Linked DNA regions of Homo sapiens. The protein of the gene in region 1 purifies or fractionates together with the protein of each later gene. This does not show direct contact. Each region holds a gene or a part of one and is shown in the gene's direction. Other genes may lie near its edges.

Region 1 (3,600 bases):
CCAGCCCTGCAGTGCTGCCTGTTCCTGCGGCTCCTCTCGGTGGGGGCGAACACAGCAGAAGAGTTTCTGCCACACTGCGGACCGCACCTGCTGCATTTCCCTGCGAAGCCAAATCTTTGCTGGGTAACAGGGAGGTGGGAAGCCGATCTGGAGAAGGGGTCGCGCTGGCGGGAGAAAGGGCAAGAAAGGGGTCTGCAGATCCTGTCTGGAGGCACCACAATAATAGCAACACGTCTCTCCCGGGGCTGGATCCCGCTGTGGGCCTGGGGTAGCTGCTATTGATTATCTCCTCCTTGCCTACTTCATTACGTTGGCAGGAGCCTCTCACCAGTGCCCCTCAACTTCTGCCCTCCCCCATCTCCCCGGCCCGGCAGCACCCAGCTGAGCTCTCCTGGAGGTTCTGGTTAGTAAGTCGGGCTCTGCCAAAGAATGTTTTCCTCGCGGGGCGGGGGCTGAGGCCCGGGGGCCCAACGAGGTGACGAGCTCGGTGGCGGCGGAGGGCAGCTTGTCGCCCCGGCCCCGGCCCCGGCCCCCGCCGGCCCCTTTAATTCGAGTTCGCCGTCGAGCCAGGTGCGGCGCTGCGTGGCGCGGTGCGGCTGCGGGCGGCGGCCGGGAGCTCCGTACGCGCCGCCCGCGGGACTGCAGAGCCGGCTCCCGGCTGGCCGCCCGCACCCCGCCGCCGCCCGCTGCCGGGGTTCTGCCGGCGCTGGCCGTAACCTAGGAACATGGAGGCCCCGGTGCCCATCCGGAAGGGTAAATCCGTGTCGGGGCGTTGCGCGGCGCGTGCTGCCTTCCCTGCCCGGCTGCGGCGCCCAGAGGGGCTGCGGGGCACCCGGCGGCGCAGCCTGCAGCGCAGCAGGCTTGGGCTGAGTCCGCGGCGGCAAGCCCTTGCCGACCACTGCCGTCTGCTCGGCAGGTCCCAGACCGGGGAGATCAAGGGGAACTTGCACCCTGCTCAAGAAGAGTGCACAGAATGGGCTCGGGACCCTCTGGGGTTTGCGTGGCGCGGGGCGGAGGGCACGGAGAGGAGCTGGTGGGTGGTGGGAAGTGCAGCTGGCAGCATAACCATGTCTGGTAAATAGCGCGGGTTGGTAGGACCTGAACCACTTGGGACGGCCGGGCTGCATTCGCCTCTTCGGCACAGAATAACAAACGGCTTTGCTGCAGAGAGGGCTTTCCCCTTCGCTGGGGCCGTGGGCTGCCGCCGAGCCCCCGCGCTTAAAAGGAAGCTGAGATCTGGGGCGGCAGCCTGGCGCAGGCTACTCCCCACCCCCAGAGATCAGGTTCCGGGATTTTGGGTTGGACACTGAGCCTCGGCGGTCCCTCGGCTGGACGCCGGGGGCTTAAGAGCTGAACTGCGCTTGGGCCCGCAGCAGGAGCCGACCGCGCGGGCAGGAGGGGGTTAAGGTGGCGCTAGCGGCCGCGGCCAGCGGGAGGGTCTGGTCCTCTGCGCGGAGGCGAGCGCTGAGTGCGCCGAACGGAATCCCGGCCGGAGCCCGGGGCGATGGGGAGAGGGCCCAGACCCCTCCCCGCCCTGGGGCCGGCGGGATTGGGTCGGCAGGGGGCCAGTCCGGAAGCCGGCTTCCTCCAGGCTCCCCCTCTCGCTGCTGCCAAGCCGCCTCGCAGCTAGGCAGGCGGAGCGTTTATTCTGTGCTCCCTGCCGAGGAGATGTGAGGGATTTTCTCTTGGGGGAGAAATCAGTGGTCGAGCGCCTGCCCAGCTCAAATGCCACCCGGCTCAGAGGGAGGCCTGCGGCCCAGGGATCCCGGAGGGAGAGTAAGTTCATCCAGTTTTCGTACAGTGCAGACTTTGTTGTGTGGGGTCTCCCTAGATGCGCTCTGAAGGAGTGTGTGTGCTGGGGGGTGGGGTGCTTCTTTTCCAGGACTGGCTGAGGTCAGAGCTTGTAGACAGGCTGCAGTGAGCTAAGCCCTCCTCTTGGGAGCTGCTGTGTCCTGACATGTGGGGGTAGGAGTGCTTCTTCCAGAGTCCTTCCTGAGAGCAGCTGGGGACTAGCAACCTGGATCAACCCAGGGAGGCCCCTGGAGAAGGCAGGCCCAGCCAAGCCTGAGTCTTGCTCCCTGGGAGAAAATGCTTCAAGCTGATGGGAAGCCTGCCCAGAAGAGGCAAGGAGGCTGAGGGATAGTCCTCAGGCCTGGCATCAGAATAGAGGATGGGCATGGGGGCCTGTTACCTCCCATGAGGGAAGCTGCCAGACCCTCCTAAATCTTGGCACCAGCTGGTTCAAATGCCCTGGTTCCACCTTGCTGCTGTTTTTTTCCAGGCAACGTCACACCTCCTGAGGACAGCCAGGACTCCAGCTTTTGCTGAGCTTTGCATCTTGCCTCCTTCCTTCAAAAGGCTCCAGGCCCATGCTCGGCTGTCTTCAAGTCCCGCATGCCCCTGGCCAGGCACCTCACCGCCCCTCCAGCCCAGCCCAATCCTAGAGCTCACCTCCAGGACCCAGAGTCTGCCCTTCTGCCCAGAATGACTCACCATTATTTCTAGCTCGAGTGAGAAGACGTGATGAGGAGTTGGGCTGCCTGTTGGTGCATCTCAGATTCCTGCAGCATCTGATCAGCTCTGCAAGGAAGAGAGCTTCACGTCTCTGGTCAGGTAAATCAATCTATCATTTAATAACAGCCTTGTGTAGAATCACTGGGGTGGAGGCCAATGAGAAAGACCCAGGCCCAAGCTCCCCAACCATGAATACCTCCCTGGGTATGAGTATCTGAGACATTAGTGCAGCACCTGGGAGAGGGTCCACTTTTAACCTATTAGCATGGGGTTATGCTCCATGAAGCCTGTGTGCTACAAGCGGGCCTGTACCAGCCACCTTCCCCCAATGCAGGGCATTCCAGAGGTTCCTGGAGAGATTGCTACCTGCTCCCCCTGATCCCCAGACAAGTTACAAGGTGAAAGTAAATTTTGCTTTGTCGTTGTGGTGGTGGTGATCATGTGTCTGAACTCTTGGCTGAGAGATGGGAGACAAAAAGTGGCAACCCAGGTCAGGCTGCCAATGCTGAGTAGCCTCATGTCAATAACTGCCTCTGTCTTTCAGCCAAGCGAGGCTGTCTCTCCAGCTCTCAGAGAGCTCTCGGGGCTCTCCTGCAGGAGACCAGGCCAATGCTCCTGTGCTTCCTGGGGCCAGTAGCAGCACCCTGAGCTCCCTGCCACCAGGCAGCTGAAAGGCATAGCGTGAGGTGCTTCTCTCAGTCCCAATTATGACAGTGGCCACCGGAGACCCAGCAGACGAGGCTGCTGCCCTCCCTGGGCACCCACAGGACACCTATGACCCAGAGGCAGACCACGAGTGCTGTGAGAGGGTGGTGATCAACATCTCAGGGCTGCGGTTTGAGACCCAGCTAAAGACCTTAGCCCAGTTTCCAGAGACCCTCTTAGGGGACCCAAAGAAACGAATGAGGTACTTTGACCCCCTCCGAAATGAGTACTTTTTCGATCGGAACCGCCCTAGCTTTGATGCCATTTTGTACTACTACCAGTCAGGGGGCCGATTGAGGCGACCTGTGAATGTGCCCTTAGATATATTCTCTGAAGAAATTCGGTTTTATGAGCTGGGAGAAGAAGCGATGGAGATGTTTC
Region 2 (3,819 bases), on another chromosome or scaffold:
GCCACCACGTCCGGCTAATATTTTGTATTTTTAGTAGAGACGAGGTTTCATCATGTTGGTGAGGCTGGTCTCGAACTCTTGACCTCAGGTGATCCTCCCGCCTCGGCCTCCCAAAGTGCAGGGATTACAGGCGTGAGCCACCGCGACTGGACGGAAGAAACGGTGAAACTTTTAAGGTGGTAGAATTATAGGATCTGATGACTGATTAGATGAAGCATGGAGAGGGCAACAGTGTGCACAGTGATGCCTTTTCTTCACAGGCATTATAGGAGGGACAGGTTGGTAGGAGGAGGCAACGGGTTTAGTTTTGGATTTACTGACCGGGGATGAGTGTTAGCTCTCTAGGTAGAGGTGTTCCGCAGGCAACTGGTGTTGCGGGACAAATCATAGACGGGAGAGACCGAGCAGAGTTCAGGAGAGCCTTTATTATTAAGGTGATCACCGGCTCAGTCGGACTAGGGTCCAGAAAGTCTGAGCCCCGAACAAAGGGATCAATCACCTTTTAAGCAGTTTGTGTTGGGAGTTACGTGTTGCATGAAGTGTACTTGCAGAAGCAAGAACAAAGGCAGTAAATTACTCTTACATTTGTTACACCATATGTCTTACGTCCTTGGGAATACATGCTTTTGTAACACTTGCTAATCAGTTTTGTGACTTTACAGCAGCGCTAGGGAGGGAAGCAAGAACTCGCTGTGCCTCAAGGAATGTGAAACGATGGAACACAGATAAGCCTCTCCACGCATAGGGGAGAAATAAGCAGTTAATATACTCTTAACCCAGGCCTTGGGTAGGGGAGGTGCTATATTACATTCTACCTCAAAGGAAAAGAATATACTTCTTGATTAGTATACTTATAAAATTCATTAATTTCCCTTTCACTGGATATTCCTACTAATTCCCCCAGGGCCTTGCAGTTTTGTCTCATTCGCTGCTCTATCCCCTAGCTTAGCACAAAACCTAGTTCTTAACATTGATTAAATAAATGAATCCGGTCAGGTGCTCCCGTGGGTGATCTGGAAGGAGTTAAATTTGGTAGTCATGGGAGACGCTTCTGTGAAGCCATAGGAGCGAAGATTGATTGTGGCGGCAGGACTGAACTCAGCTTCTGAATCTTTCTAGCCGCTAAACCTACAGACTAAGTGGCGTCCTTGGGGAATGCTGCCTCAAACGGCTCGCGACGTCCTAAAACATGTACATTTATTTTGGAAAATCTGTTTTCGTAAAACCTAGCATACTTAATCACCAACATTTGTTAACTTCATGGTGGCATATTAATACCTGTCAGGTTGATTTTAGTTGGAGTGGGACGGGGCTGACCTCACCGTCCTACCCTTCGGTATGAGGCCGGCGTCTTCACGACCTCGCTTTTCACAACCCCAGTCCCCGAGGGCTTATTTGGGGCTGTCGGAGTCCCCAAGACGTGGCCCCGGAGAAGGGTGAGGTGCCACAGTTCGAGGTGCCCCAGTACCCTGCGTCCGGACAGGGGGCGGTGCTCACGCCCAAGGCCCCGCTGACGCGATGTAGGCCGAGATCACCTCAGGCGCTCGCGGTGCAATCACAGAGCGCGCCGTCGCCGCTCGAGCTCGCCCTGAGATCCCTCCGCTCAGCGCCTTCAACGCCGTGTCCCGGCACCCCGCACCCGGGCACACAAAAAACGGGTCGCCCGCGATTCTCAGGGATTGATCGCCTCTTCAGGTAAGTTATCTTCCGGCCCCGTACCACTGTGCCACAGGCGCAGCCCGCTTCCTCAGGTGCCCTATCCCGCGCAAGAAGACCACGGCTTCACAGAGTGTTATTTAAGGGGCGTGGCCAGCGGAACATCCCGCCCCATTCTGTGACGCACGGGGTGGCGCGCGTGGGACCCGAGGGGTGGGGCTGGGTTTAGTAGGAGACCTGGGGCAAGGCCCCCTGTGGACGACCATCTGCCAGCTTCTCTCGTTCCGTCGATTGGGAGGAGCGGTGGCGACCTCGGCCTTCAGTGTTTCCGACGGAGTGAATGGCGGCGGCGGCTGGGATGCTGCTGCTGGGCTTGCTGCAGGCGGGTGGGTCGGTGCTGGGCCAGGCGATGGAGAAGGTGACAGGCGGCAACCTCTTGTCCATGCTGCTGATCGCCTGCGCCTTCACCCTCAGCCTGGTCTACCTGATCCGTCTGGCCGCCGGCCACCTGGTCCAGCTGCCCGCAGGGGTGGTACGTACATTCTTTAGGGTCTGAGTGGGGCGCGCGCCGCAGCTGAGGCGGCCGAAGGGCTGGCGTGGGCGGCTCCGTGGCCCCGACCGGCTCAGTGGATGGCAAGGGCGGGGGCGACTGCGGCCATGCTTGGCGTGGCTTTGGTGGCAGGCGCGCTGGGGGCTGGAGTAGTGGCTGCGGCGGCGGCACTGCTGCTGGTGGCGCTGGCTGTAGCACCCGCCATTGCCTTGTGTTGGGGGGCGGTGCTGGCCTCCCCGGCTGTGTATCTGATCCTAGACGGGGTCGTGGTTGCGGCATTTGTGGTTGTAGCGGTCTGTACTGACCGCAGCAGTGGTGCCCCTAGTGGCGGTGGCTGGATTGGCGGCTGTGGGTTTGAACGACCCGGTGGTCGTTGGGGCCCTTGGTGGGGGTCCTGACGGAGATGCTGTTGGCAGCTGGCCCGTCATCCTGGAGGCTGCCCTGTGTGGTTCAGTGTTCTGTGGGCTGTAGCAGTGCCCCTAATGGTGGTTTATACCCATATTAAGGAGGATGTGTAGAGTGTGGTAATGGTAGTGACTGGAGTGTGGTAAGGGCCTTCCTCTGATGCTAATAATGTAACAGTTTCTCGGCCGGGAGCAGTGGCTCACGCCTGTAATCCCAGCACTTCGGGAGGCCGAAGCGGGCGGATCACCTGAGGTCAGGAGTTCCAGACCAGCCTGAACAACATGGAGAAACCCCATCTCTACTAAAATACAACAAAACAAAACAAAAATTAGCTGGATGTGGTGGCACACGCCTGTAGTCCCAGCTGCTTGGGAAGCTGAGGCCCGAGAATCACTTGAACCTAGGAGGCGGAGGTTGCAGTAAACCGAGATTGCGCCACTGGACTCCAGTCTGGGCGACAGAATGAGACTCCGTCTCAAAAAAAAAAAAAATCATTTTCTTCAATTTAACAGCCTTATTAACCTAGCTTTCAATCTCCCAAATGTTATTTGATTGTGCCTTTTACAGTCAGCAATAAGTAGCTTTTGAAAACTACCCTTTTACTGACAATGCAATGTACAAACTTTTGACCAAGTAGCTTTTAAAATAATTTTTGTTTGAACCATACCAGGCATAAGAAAGAGTTATTTATTTATTTATTTTTTTCCTACACATGGGATCTTTAAGGAAATGATATTTGTCTCTGGGAAGACAAAGTTACTTTTAGTGTTTAAAGATAGTTCTATTAGCTGAGGTGTACTGTGAGGTTGTGGTGCTCCTTTCTATTTGAGACCACCAGAGAATTGAGGAGTATTACCCTTTTTCATTATTTTGTTTGATTTTCAGGATACTTAATGTTGTAATCTGCAGGTCTCATTTTGTGGCATCTAAAGAAACTTTTATGAAGAATGCTAGAGTTCTTGCTAGAGCTGATCTACTCTCTTAAAAACTCTAAAATCAGTGGCTCTAGTTCACTTGCAGTGAGAGAAGCATGAGATTGATTGTTTACTGAGAAGTAAATATAGCTTCTTAAACATTTCCCTTCTTTCTATACTACAAGTTACTGCTTGTCTTTTTCTATACCTTCTTTAAGCAAGTATCTGGGACTAAAATTGTGAGTAGTAGTAGTAGTAAGTAGTGAAGAAACAATATAGTGGGCCCTCTGGGGA
Region 3 (3,819 bases), on another chromosome or scaffold:
TATTTTAATATTGTACAGTAAGTTCTTAGAGTGGTGACCGCTTGGCCCAGGGCAGGAGCAGTAGAGAGCTGGTTAGAGTAGCTGGATTCTCTTGTCACCTGTTTGGAAGGTGGAGCTAACATGATCTTCTGAAGGATCAGATGTAGGAGTGAGAGGAGAGAAGATGAGAAGTCCAAGGTTTTTGGCTTGAGCAACTAGAAGCATGGAGTTAACCATTTCCTGAGATGTGGAAGAATGTGGGATGATCAGGTTTAGGGGAGTTTGGTTTTGTTTATCTTGTTTGAGACCTGCCGTGATTTTGATTTATGAGTCTGGAGTTCAGGGAGCTCCTGTGTCCCTTGACTGATCTAACTAGTGGGGCGTGGGTATTAGAATTTTGTTCTTGGACCTTAAGAATCTCTAGGGAAGAAAGATGCTATAGGATTATGGTAATGCTATTCCATCTTAAAACTTTCAGTAATATTTATCATACCTGATCACCTGTTATGCTTCAAGTACTCAGCCAGATAATAAATTATATCTAAGCTTCACAACAAATTTCAAGGTTGATAATATTTTAATTTTGTAGGTGAGGAAACTTCTACACAGGTAAATTAAATGCCTTGGCCAAAGTCACAGCCAGTTAGTGACACCAACTTAGTTCAGTGTTCTTTGCATTATTGCAACTCTGTTACAATAAATTCAATTTATTATTTCTGTTATTTAGTTGATTAATACAGTCTGATTTTTCTAAACCATTGAACATTTTCATTGTCTTATTTTTTATGTATGAGGAGGTAGTAGTTTGTGTTTAATGTAGCATGGTTTATTTGAATATAGTTCTTGGAAATTTTAGATCTGTAGCCCATGTGGAATTAAATTTTTATATAGCTTTAGGTGGATTTTCTTGTGGCTGCATAGTCAATTATGCCAGTGCTATTTATTAAAGAAGACATCTTTTATCCACTAAATTAAAAAGACCACTTCATCTTACTGAATTCCCAAATGTATCTTGATTTATTTCTGATCTTTCTTTTGTTTCACAATTTCCTTGTCTCTGTTCCAATTCCCTACTATTTTGATTATAATCTTTTTTTTTTTTTTTTTTTTTGAGATGGAGTTTCACTCTTGTCGCCCAGGCTGGAGTGCAGTGGTAGCAATATCAGCTCACTGCAACCTCCACCTCCTGGATTCAAGTGATTCTCCTGCCTCAGCCTCCCAAGTAGCTGGGACTACGGGCGTATGCCACCACGTCCAGCTAATTTTTGTATTATTAGTAGAGATGGGGTTTCACCATGTTGTCCAGGCTGATCTCGAACTCCTGACCTTAGGTGATCTGCCCTCCTTGGCCTCCCAAAGTGCTGGGGTTACAGACGTGAGCCACCGTGCCTGGCTGATGATAATAATTTTATAGTAACCTTTACTATCTGGTAACCTATGTGTTCTTTTTCAAAAAAAAATTGTCCACAGGACCTTTAACATAATTTCTTTCCCCAAAAAACCCTATTGGGTTCCTGGTTGGAAGTATATTTAGGTCTCTCTCTCTATATATATTTTTTATATAGATAGGGTATTGACCTTAAGTTTATTAGATTGATTAGATTCATATTAAATACTTGTGGGAAATACATCATAGGAGATGTTGTAACATCAGTTTGTTCCACCATTAGCAAAGCGATGGTTGGCAAACCCAGCCAGACTTTTTCCTTTAGAGTTTTTGAATATATTTCTCCATTTTCTTTTTCTATCCTGTTGAGATACCTGAAGCTTTTCTAAGTCTTATCTTTTCTATATGGCTTGTTTTCTCCCTATTCTTCTGGCAATTTGTAGAATCTTTTTTTGTCTTCAGTGTTCTAAAATTTACTTTTCGTGTGCCTTTGTGTGGTCTGTTTCTCAGGCCTGGGTATTTGTTGGGCCCTTTCAGTATGACAACTCAAGTCCTTCAGTGTGGGAACTTTTCTTGAATTACAGCCTGGAGTTTGTCTAATCAGATTCCCTTGTTCATTCTTTCAGAAGCCCTTGTTGGATTTTTGGACTTTCTGAACTGGTCCTGAACTGGTAATTTTCTTTCTTTCTTTTTTTTTTTTTTCCTCCTACTGTCTTTTTTCTTTCTTTCTTTTTTTTTTTTTTGAGACGGAGTCTAGCTCTGTCCCCCAGGCTGGAGTGCAGTGGCACCATCTCGGCTCGCTGCAACCTCTGCTTCCCGGGTTCAAGCGATTCTCCTGTCTCATCTTCCTGAGTAGCTGGGATTACAGGTGCCCGCCACCATGCCTGGCTAATTTTTGTATTTTTAGTAGAGACGGGGTTTCACCATATTTGCCAGACTGGTCTCGAACTCCTGACCTTGTGATCTGCCTGCCTCGGCCACCCAAAGTGCTGGGATTACACACGTGAGCCACTGTGCCCAGCCTTTCTCTCCTACTTTCTATCTTTTTGCTCTACTTTCTTTTTTCTTTTTCCTTTTTTTTTCAGATGGAGCCTTGCTCTATCGCCAGGCTGGAGTGCAGTGGCACAATCTTGGCTCACTGCAACCTCTGCTTCCTGGGTTTAAGCAATTCTCCTGCCTCAGCCCCCCGAGTAGCTGGGACTACAGGCACGCGCCACCATCCCCAGCTAATTTTTGTATTTTTAGTAGAGCCGGGGTTTCACCGTGTTCGCCAGGATGGTCTTGATCTCTTGACCTCGTGATCCACCTGCCTCGGCCTCCCAAAGTGCTAGGATTACAGGCATGAGCCACCACGCCCGGCCTCTTTTTGCTCTACTTTCTAGAAGATTTTCTTTTAACAGTTCTGTCGTATGTATGTATTTATTTATTTATGTTTTGTGACAGGGTCTCACTCTATCACCCAGGCTGGAGTGCATGGCTCACTGCAGCCTCGACCTCCCCAGGCTCAGGTGATTCTCCCACCTCAGCCTTCTAAGTAGCTGGGACTGCAGGTGTGTGCCACCATACCTGGCTAATGTTATAATTTTTTTTGTAGAGACAGGGTTTTGCCATGTTGCTTAGGCTGGTCTTAAACTCTTGGGCTCAAGTGATCTGCTTGCCTTGGCCTCCCAAAGTGCTGGGATTACAGGCATGAGCCACTGCACCTGGCAGTTCTGTTGTTTTTAATCTTGGCTGTCCTGTTTTTAATTTCCAAAAGCTCTTGTTTTTTCTCTGAGTATCCCTTTTAAAAATGATTGTTTTATTAACGCAGTCTTTTTCTCTTATCTCTCTGAGGATATTACAGTGTTTTTAAAAAAGTTTTCTTCTTGTGCGTCATCTCTTTTTTCCTCCTGCTTCCTTTTGTTGTTGTTTTGTCCTGGTTGCTGTATTTCATGTTAGGGGCTGTTTTGTCTGTTTAATGTTACTGTAACACAATACCACAGACTGGGAAATTTATTAAAAAACTGAATTCATTTCTCACAGTTCTGGAGGCTGAGAAGTTCAATATTAAGGTGCTAGCATCTGGTGAGGGCCTTCTTGCTGTGTCATCCCATGGTGGAAGGCAGAAGGGAGAGAGTGAGAGAGGGGAAAGGGGCCTAACTCATCCTTTTATCAGGAGTCCACTCCTGCGATAACTAACCCAGTCCTGCAAGAACAGCATTAATCTATTCATGAGGGCAGAGCCCTCTTAAAGATTCCATCTTTCAACACTGTTGCATTGGGGATTAAGTTTCCAACATGTGAACTTTGGGGGACACATTCAAACCATAGCAGGGACTTTCCTCATATTTTTAGTAATCCTTGGCTCCCTGCTCATGGTTAATTCTGGGGAACCAAAAAGCTCATTGGAAGCTATCAGTGTGCAGTTGCACTTTTGATTTTGAACTTCACAACAGGGTGACCTAGGTTGCTCT

Evidence for each region.
Region 2: the proteins of KCNA2 (region 1) and CYP51A1 purify together in Homo sapiens (co-immunoprecipitation; 2 studies listed by BioGRID and IntAct, with this or other methods). This does not show direct contact.
Region 3: the proteins of KCNA2 (region 1) and SARAF purify together in Homo sapiens (co-immunoprecipitation; 2 studies listed by BioGRID and IntAct, with this or other methods). This does not show direct contact.

What each region holds. Positions count from the first base shown.
Region 1 is NC_000001.11:110,604,404-110,608,003, reverse strand, and holds the start of KCNA2 (potassium voltage-gated channel subfamily A member 2), read left to right. Parts: upstream 1-1,645; 5' UTR 1,646-1,776; intron 1,777-2,281; 5' UTR 2,282-2,613; intron 2,614-3,058; 5' UTR 3,059-3,221; coding exon 3,222-3,600. UniProt on the Homo sapiens protein: Voltage-gated potassium channel that mediates transmembrane potassium transport in excitable membranes, primarily in the brain and the central nervous system, but also in the cardiovascular system.
Region 2 is NC_000007.14:92,132,542-92,136,360, reverse strand, and holds the start of CYP51A1 (lanosterol 14-alpha demethylase), read left to right. Parts: upstream 1-1,883; 5' UTR 1,884-1,996; coding exon 1,997-2,188; intron 2,189-3,819. UniProt on the Homo sapiens protein: Sterol 14alpha-demethylase that plays a critical role in the cholesterol biosynthesis pathway, being cholesterol the major sterol component in mammalian membranes as well as a precursor for bile acid and steroid hormone synthesis.
Region 3 is NC_000008.11:30,076,430-30,080,248, reverse strand, and holds part of SARAF (store-operated calcium entry-associated regulatory factor isoform 1 precursor), read left to right. Parts: intron 1-3,819. UniProt on the Homo sapiens protein: Negative regulator of store-operated Ca(2+) entry (SOCE) involved in protecting cells from Ca(2+) overfilling.